Linked DNA regions of Homo sapiens: region 1 is linked to region 2. Evidence: fine-mapped expression QTL. A gene starts in region 2. The other region holds a variant in brackets. All regions are shown on one strand. Distances are between the middles of the regions. Region 1 overlaps WDR88 (WD repeat domain 88). Region 2 holds the start of SLC7A10 (solute carrier family 7 member 10).

The links. PIP is the estimated chance that this variant, and not a neighbour inherited with it, causes the effect. A credible set is the group of variants that fine-mapping cannot tell apart.
Region 1: its variant is the best candidate, but not a certain one, in a credible set for the expression of SLC7A10 in whole blood (TOPMed, PIP 0.53).

Annotation. Positions count from the first base shown.
Region 1 is chr19:33,158,767-33,163,150 of GRCh38, reverse strand. It overlaps WDR88 (WD repeat domain 88), which reads right to left. Exons shown (of 11, transcript NM_173479.4): 8 at 2,655-2,737. LOC124904691 (a long non-coding RNA gene) reads left to right here. Exons shown (of 2, transcript XR_007067228.1): 2 at 2,496-3,380. Among named protein-coding and RNA genes, the nearest start is that of TRT-AGT1-3, 16 kb to the left of the region's middle. RefSeq lists a cis regulatory region at 1,810 and enhancers at 1,726-1,895, 2,239-2,648. The variant C/T (reference allele first, on the strand shown) is at 1,701.
Region 2 is chr19:33,223,987-33,228,370 of GRCh38, reverse strand. SLC7A10 (solute carrier family 7 member 10) reads left to right here and starts at 2,521. Exons shown (of 11, transcript NM_019849.3): 1 at 2,521-2,818. The coding sequence starts at 2,668.

The DNA of each region.
Region 1 (4,384 bases), 65 kb after region 2:
TGTGTTAGCCAGGATGGTCTCGATCTTCTGACTTCGTGATCTGCCTGCCTCGGCCTCCCAAAGTGCTGGGATTACAGGCGTGAGCCACCACACCCCACCTAATGTTTGTATTTTTAATAGAGATGGAGTTTCACCATGTTGGCCAGGCTGGTCTCGAACTCCTGACCTCAAGTGATCCACCTGCCTCAGCCTCACAAAGTGCTGGGATTACAGGCATGAGCCACTGCGCCCTACCCATTCTATATTTATTTATTTAGTTATTTTTATTTGACACAGGGTCTTACTCTGTCCCCCAGGCTGGAGTGTAGCAGCTCAATCATAGCTCACTGCAGCCTCAACCTCCTGGGCTCAAGTGATTCTCCTGCCTCAGCCTCCCGAGTAGCTGGGACTACAAATGTGTGTGCCACTGTGTATGGTTTTTTAAAATAGTACTCGGGTGTTTAGCAAGATTGGGGGAGAAATATTATATTCCCAGCTGGTCTCAGGTTTTCATTTGCATTCTTTGTTCTAGGAAATACCCCTCAGAGGCCCTGTAAGTGAGGGGGCTTTTCGCTTCCAATAACTGCAAACTCGATCCACTGTGGCTTAAGCAGAGAAGGAGTGGGGTGTTTTCTTTGGGTACATAGGAGCTCAGAGCAGGCCGGGCGCGGTGCTCCATGCCTGTAATGCCAGCACTTTGGGAGGCCGAGGCGGATAGATCACGAGGTCAGGAGATCGAGACCAGCCTGGCTAACATGGTGAAACACCATCTCTACTAAAAAATAAAAATTTAAAAAAAAAAAATTAGCCGGGCATGGTGGTGGGCACCTGTAGTCCCAGCTACTCAGGAGGCTGAGGTAGGAGAATGGTGTGAACCCAGGAGGCGGAACTTGCAGTGAGCCAAGATCATGCCACTGCACTCTAGCCTGGGCGACAGAGCGAGACTCCCGTCTCAAAAAAAAACAAACAAAAAAAACAGCTCAGAGCAGATAGCTGCCATTGCTGCCTCAGACACTGAATGATGTCTGGGCTTTATGCCAGCATCTCTGTCCTTCTTTGGCCTTCCCCGTATGGAAAGAGGCAGAAAGTGAGGCCATAGTGTGGTTAGAGAAAAAGGAATCAGAGGGAAGGTTAAACCGCTTAGTGTAATTAAAGGACAGGAATTTGAGGATGGGAGCACAGAGAAAGAGGAGAGAAGAGGAGAGAGAATAGAACAACCGGCTCTGTCACCCAGGCTGGAGTCCAGTGGTGCAATCTCAGCTCACTGCAGCCTCTGCCTCCCAGGCTCTAGAGATTCTTATGCCTCAGCCTCCCAAGTAGCTGGGACTACAGGTGGGCATGACCACACCTGGCTAATTTTTGTATTTTTAGTAGAGATGGTGTTTCACTATGTTGGCCAGGCTGGTCTCGAACTCCTGACCTCCAATGATCCTCCAGCCTCAGCCTCCCAAAGTGCTGGGATTACAGGCATGAGCCACTGTGCCTAGATGACAGAGGGACTTTAAGCACAGAGAGGTTTAACATTCCATTTTAATCCGTTTATTTGCTGTGAGGAAACTCGCTTTGTCTCCCCAAGTCCTAGGAGAAGACAGCTCAGATAGACCAGCCCCAGGGACCTGAATATGGGCTGCTCAAGGACACATGTCTACTTTGTGTCCCTGGGAACAGAAAGACCAAGAATCAGGGATGCACGCATTCACAGCCAAAGGTGACAGTGAGAT[C/T]GTGAAACCAGGGAGTATGCAGAAATCCTGGGGTGTGGGGCCCCTTGGGGGAACAGGGGCACAGCATGAGGCAATTGTGGGTTCTTGCTGTGTTGGATAACACATCCCCGTATCATAGAGCCACTCTGAGTTGGGGCTCCTCTCATCCTCTCACTTGTAGCCCAGAGCATTCAGTTGACATCCCCATTTTGGAACCCCAAGCTTTCTGTGCATGCCTCACTAGGGCATGCGTCTCTCTTCAAGGTAATTTCTGTTTTTTGTTTTGTTTTGTTTTGTTAGAGACAGAATCTCAGTCTATCGCCCAGGCTGGAGTGCAGTGGCACAATCTTGGCCCAGTGCAACCTCCGCCTCCCGGGTTCAAGCGATCCTCCCACCTCAGCCTCCCAAGTAGCTGGGACTACAGGTTTGCACCACCACACCCGGCTGATTTTTGTATTTTTAGTAGAGACGGGGGTTTCACCATGTTGGCCAGGCTGGTCTCAAACTCCTGACCTCAGGTGATCCGCCCACCTCAGCCTCCCAAAGTACTGGGATTACAGGAGTGAGCCACAGTGCCCAGGCCTGCACAGTAACTTCTGCTGTTCTTAGACACTCCCACCTCAGGGTTTTTGCATCAGCTGTTCCATCTGCCTGGACTGCCCTTCTTCTTCAAGATCCCCACTTATGTAGTCCTTTCTGTTCTCAGCTCAAACACCTCCTTCTCCAGGAAGCTCTGCCCATGCAATGTGGATGGGTCCCCCGCCTCTGTCCCCATCATGTCACCCTGTTGTGGTTTCTCCATTTCACTCCTCACAGTCGGTGGTGTGTTTGCTGGCTTCCTGTCTGTCCTTCATCAGCCCACAGAGGCATCAAGGCCTGTGTCACTCACAGCTGTGTCCCCAGCAACCAGCATTGAGCACAGGAAGGACTCGGGAGGGAAGTTCAGATCCTCAATCTCATGCTGGCCACATGTACCTTCAAAGAGAGCTTCCGGTAGCCTTCTGCTACATCCCAAATAGCCACAGTCCTATCAAACCCTCCAGAAATGAGAAAAGAGCCTGCAACAGAAAATGAAAGGGTGGAGATGGGGGTCAACTTTCCAAGCCAAGTGAGCCCAAAGCCAGCTGAAGATGCCTTGGCGAGGCACCACCTCATCTCACTCTGACAACACTGAAACCCCTTCCTGGAGTGGCTCCACGACCCCAAGCCAATTACAGCTGATTCTTATCATTTACAGTAGTCATGTTCTATGACAGGGGTCCCCAGTCCCTGGGCCACAGACTGGTACCAATCCATGGCCTGTTGGGAACCAGGCCACCCAGCAGACAGTGAGTGGTAGGCAAGCAAGCCAAAGCTTCATCTGTATTTACAGCCACTCCCCATCGCTCGTATTACCACCTGAGCTCGGCCTCCTGTCAGATCAGCTGCAGCATTCGATTCTCACGGGAGCATGAACCCTATTGTGAACTGCGGATGCGAGGGATTAGGTTGTGCACTCTTTATGAGAATCTAATGCCTGATGATCTGTCACTGTCTCCCATCACCCCCAGATGGGACCATCTAGTTGCAGGAAAACAAGCTCAGGGCTCCCACTGATTCTACATGATGCTGACTTGTATAATTATTTCACTATATATTACAATGTAATAATAATAAAAATAAAGGGCACAATAAATGTAATACACTTGGGTCATCCCGAAACCATCCTCCACAGCTCCCATTTGTGGAAAAGTTGTCTTCCATGAAACCTGTCCCTGGCGCCAGAAAGGTTGGGGGCCTCTGCAGTTTTTGCAGACACTGAATTAGTGAATACTGAACCATCGCTCCTAGGGGAAATACAGGGTCAGTTTCCTGCGAGCTCTGGTCACATTCTCATCAGTTGATCAGTACGTAACTTTGTTTTATGTGTGTTTCTGTTTAAAGACACCTTATTGCATATATACTGTTGATTTGTTTACATTGAACTCACAACCAACAGCTGTAACTCATGCCTGAATGGATGCATGCATTTTCCCCATCATAGCACTCTCGCGCTTAGGAACGGCAAACAGCACTTCGGCACTGTGGTTAGGGATCATTTTATTTGTTATTTATTTATTTATTTATTTATTTATTTATTTATTTATTTATTTATTTTTAGAGATAAGGTCTTGCTCTGTCACCCAGGCTAGAGTGCAGTGATGCAATCAGCTCACAGCAGCTTCAAACTCCTGGTCTCAAGCAATCCTCCCACTTCAGTTACCAAGTAGCTGGGACTACAAGCAGGTGCCAGCACACCTGGCTAAATTTTTTTTTTTTGTTTTGGTAGAGATGGGGTCTCACTATGTTGCCCAGGCTGATCTCAAACTCCTGGGTTCAAGCAATACTCCCGCCTCAGCACCCCCCCAGCACTGAAATTAAAGCTGTGAGCCACCACACACGGCCAAGGGAGCCATTTTACACAGCAAAATCACTAACAAAAAGCAAAAGAAAGCCCAGGTGTGGTGGCTCACGTCTGTAATCCCAGCACTTTGGGAGGCTGAGGCAGGCAGATCACATGAGGACAGGAGTTCAAGACCAGCCTGGACAACATGGCGAAACCCCATCTCTACCAAAAATACAAAAATTAGCCAGGCATGGTAGTGCGCACCTGTAATCCAAGCTACTTGGAAGGCTGAAGCAGGAGAATCGCTTGAACCCAGGAGGCAGAGGTTGCAGTGAGCCAA
Region 2 (4,384 bases):
AACAATTTCTCTCAGAAATGTTTTGTAGTTTCTTGCATAAAAATTGTACACATCATTCACTAGAATTATTTTTAGGTATTTGATTTTATGCTATTATTAATTTCATTTTCTAATTATTTCTAGTATATAGAATACAATTAGTTTCTGTATATTAAACTTCTGTCTAGCGACTTTGCTAAATGAACTTATCTTCCTTAAATTAACCTGTAATTTTTTTTCTACATACTGAATCACATCATATGTGAATGGCAGCTTTATCTTTCCCTTTACTATCTTCATACCTTTTTACTTATTTTTCTTGTCTTATTGCTCTGGCTAGGACCTCCAGTACACTATTGTATAGAATATTGACAAGTGCCAACATCCCTTCTCATTTTCAATCTCAGTAGAAAAGCATTCACACTTTCACCACTAAACATGATGTCAGCTGTAGGGTTTTTGTTTGTTTCTTGGTTTCTTGGAGATTTGTTTTTAGGTAGATACTTTTATCAGATTAAGGAGGTTCTCTTCTGTTTCTATTTGCTAAGAGTTGTTTGTTTACATCACGGATGACTGTTTTTTGCATCTGTTGAGGTTTTCCTTTTTTCTCTCTATTAATGTGGAGAATCATGCTGATTGGTTTTTGGATGGTAAACCAATCCTACTAACCTTTTGTTCCCATTGAAATTTGCAGGTTCTAGTTCAATTCCACGAAAAGGACCTCCTGAGCTATGGGGCCTGGCTGACAACATACAAACTCCATCCTGTGCAAAGCCCTAGGCCGACCTTTCCCCCACAAACGCATACTCCACATTCCAGGTCCCAGAGAGACACCCTCGAAAACCACAGGCTTCAGAGCTGCGAGGCTTGCGCCAGCCCCTGCCCCTTGGCAAGCTGCCCCTGATTGCACCAGCCCTGGCTAGACCCTCTCCCAGCAGACCCTAGAATTGCGAGGGCAACTGGGGGGCTGGGGAGAGTCAAACCAGAAGGTCGAGGCCTCTGGCCCCTAACACCCGCGACAATCAGGGGTCTCCGGAGCCAGGGCTGCCCCTACCCTGCGCGAGGCTCCTTTAAGAGAGTCGGCCTCTGAATGGTCTCTGGGGCTGGAGGTGGAGGGCGCCAAGAATGCCGGTCTCCGACGACAGAAGCGAGAGGGATGCAGCTTCGCCGGGTGGCCTCCCCCTCGGCGTCCCACCAGCACGTCCACCCTGGATCCTCCCGCTCCTACTCCTACCCCAAGTCCCCGCCCCCAACTTCGAAGCTCCTGTGTGCCTGCAAACGCCGGCCCCGCCCCGCTCCCACCTCCAGGCCCTGCCGCTGCCAGGGACCCGCCCCTGCCAGGGACCCGCCCCCGCCCCGTCCCACCCCGGTCCACCCTGCAGCCGTCGGACCCCTGGCAGGGCCCCAGCAAACCCGGAGGCCGCCACTGGGGGGAAGGACGGGGCGCCCGGCGAGGCCTCATCCACATGCAGGGGACGGCGCGTCGCGGCGGCCGCCAGGAAGAAACAAAGGCTGTTCCGCCGCCGGCCGCACAGTGCCAGGCTCGCCCCGCCCGCCGCCCCGGTGGCCCCGACGCGGCCCCCCTGGATCTTTTCCGCCGGCCTCGGCTGCACAGTCCGGACGGCTTCCGGGAGGAGGCAGCCTCCCTCGGATCCCCGCACTCCCGACCCTCTCCCGCGACCACAGCCTCCTTCTCCGTGTCTCCCGGGCATTCCAGGTCGCCTGGCCTTCTTGAGCCGGGCTGGATCGCGCGGGACCTGCACCAGAGACCCGAGTTCTAGTCCGCTGAGCCCTCACTCTGACCTGGGACGAGGAGCCTGTAGTGAAGATCTCAGGCCAGAGGTGGCCCAGAGCCTGGTAGGGTGGGCGAGCCGTGTCCAGGACTCGTCACAGGTCTTGGGTCCCCGTGATGAGGATGAGAGCCCCCGGGATCTTCACCTCGACCCTCAGGCCTTTGATCCAGGGTGCATAGGACACCCAGACCCCTCAGAGGAGTTCCAGACCTCAACCCCCACCCCTCCTGAGGTTGTCCGCCTGGGAGCCTCAGGAGGCACGAGAAAGGGTTTGGTCTCAGCCCTGCACTTGCTCGGCGATCGCTACTGATCTCTGGGCTTCAACTTCCACCTGTAGAATGGACTCACCCTGGGAGCTGTCTCCTACACACACACACACACACACACACACACACACACACACACACACATCGTGCAGGCATAGAGTACTAAAGGGAGCACACACTGCATCCCCACACGCGGCCAGCTGTTATTCTTGCCGTCCCCCTCGGCCTCCCTGAGAGCAGGGATTGTCTTGTCTCGGAGCTCTGCTCCCCAACCCGGCCCCAAGAATGGATGTAACTCAGGCAACTGGAGGGTCCCTTCCTTCGCCCAACTGGGAAGTCCTTCCTAGATCTGCCCCAAGTCCTCTCCTTCCTTCCCAGGCCGGGACTGGGGGAGGGGGCGTTCCCTTTAAGGGAGGTGGGGGAGGGGGCTGTGGGCCGGCCCTCCTTCCGCCCCTCCCGGGCCCCCGCCGCCCGGGGCCCCCAGTCCCGGGCCCGGAGCCAGCGCATGCGCCCGCCTGTGGGCGCTGTCCCGGCTGCGAGGGCCGTGAGCTCACGGACCGACGGACCGACGGGCGGCCGGCCGGACAGACGGGGCAGCGCAGGGAGCGGGGACGCGGCGGGACAGCGACATGGCCGGCCACACGCAGCAGCCGAGCGGGCGCGGGAACCCCAGGCCTGCGCCCTCGCCCTCCCCAGTCCCAGGGACCGTCCCCGGCGCCTCGGAGCGGGTGGCGCTCAAGAAGGAGATCGGGCTGCTGAGCGCCTGCACCATCATCATCGGTGAGCGGGACCCAGGCGGGCGGGCGCCGGGCGGAGGCCGAATGAGGGGCGCAGCCGCTCCGAACGAGGGGCGTCCCCTCTCCGGGCGCTCGGACGGGTCTGCCTGGGGAACCTGCAGTCTGGCCTCAGAGAGCGCTATGACCGCGGGGAGGTCAGGGGCTGCTGGCCCAGGGTGCCAAAGCTCCGTGTTCCCACCTCCCGGCCGCCTGCACCTGGGGGAGTTTTGGGTCCCCTCCACCGCTGGACTCTTCCTCCTGACTCGATTTTGCTGCGGGGCTTTTGCAAGGCAGTTACCCTCAGTTTCCTCATCTGTGAAATGGCCATGACTGCAGTCCTGCGATTAGCGCAGGAACTTGACCAGTGTAGGGGCTGGTCAGGCTGCGGCAGGCTGAGCTCCCCAAGTTCTGTACTGTGGGTCAGTCTGAGTACCTACTGTGTGCAGGGTCCAGGTGCCACGCAGTGCAGTGACTTTATTCTTGGAAAGCAGGAGGGCCTATGAGCAGAGTGAGCAAGCGCAGCCTGCGCAGAAGGGACGGAGGTTCAGAGCAGGCAATGACTGCAGGGTTTGGCAGCAGGACCCAGGAGAGGGGGCGGGTTAGCCAGCAATTGGGGGCAGCAGTGGGCAGACCCAGCCTGCAGAAGGCCAGCTGCTCCCTGAGCTGGGATCCTGGTGGGCACTGGACACTCGCCTGGTCTGGAGGCCCTGGACTCCAAAGTCCCCACCTGAGAATGGGTCCATGTCCTGCCCCCACATAGGGGTTTCTGGGCAGGCAGAGAGCTCAGAGGTCATGGGAATGGCAGTGGTATTTTTCCACTCTCTGTCCCAAGTCATGGATACTGACTTGTTTCTTTGTCTACACAGAGTGCCTCTGAGCCCCTCCAGGGAGGGACAGGAGAAGTGGTTTGGGGGGTGAGTGACTGGGGCCTCGACTGTTCTCACCTTACCGCCAGCCAGTCTTCCCGGTCCCCTGCCAGTGAGAGCCACTTGTGTCTTCACTGCCTTCCCACCCTCAGACCCCTGGAGATGGAGAAAGTTTGGGGGCTCAGTAGGGCAGACCCAGGGTCTTCACCTCGTCCTCTCCCACCCCCACATTAGCAGCTCTTCACATCCAGAGTTGCCCCTGAACACAGCCCCTGGCCAGGTCACTCCGCCATCTCACCCCCTCCCCTTAGAATGCTGTCTCCCAGAGCCTGGTCCTGACCTGGCCCTGGGAGCTTCTTGGCCTAGGATGCCCCTGCCTGATGGACGGTCTGCTGGAAGGAAGGGCTGGTTCCAGGGATTTGGCCAGGGTGCTGGTTAGAGCTTTTTCTTGGCCCACACCCTCTCCAGGAACTGTCCTCCAGGGAAGGGGAAGCTCACACCATGAGTGGGTCATAGGATTGAGACCATGCCTAGAACCAGCTACAGTGCCAGGCAGGTGCAGAAAGACACAGCTCTGCCTGGGCTCCTCAGCTAAGCCCAGCATCCTTGACCTGTCTTCCTACTCTATCCCCTCCCCACATCCCATCCTCCCCAGGCCACAGGGAGGCTGCCTGGCTCCTTTCTCCCCAGAAAGGGGCCCTGGT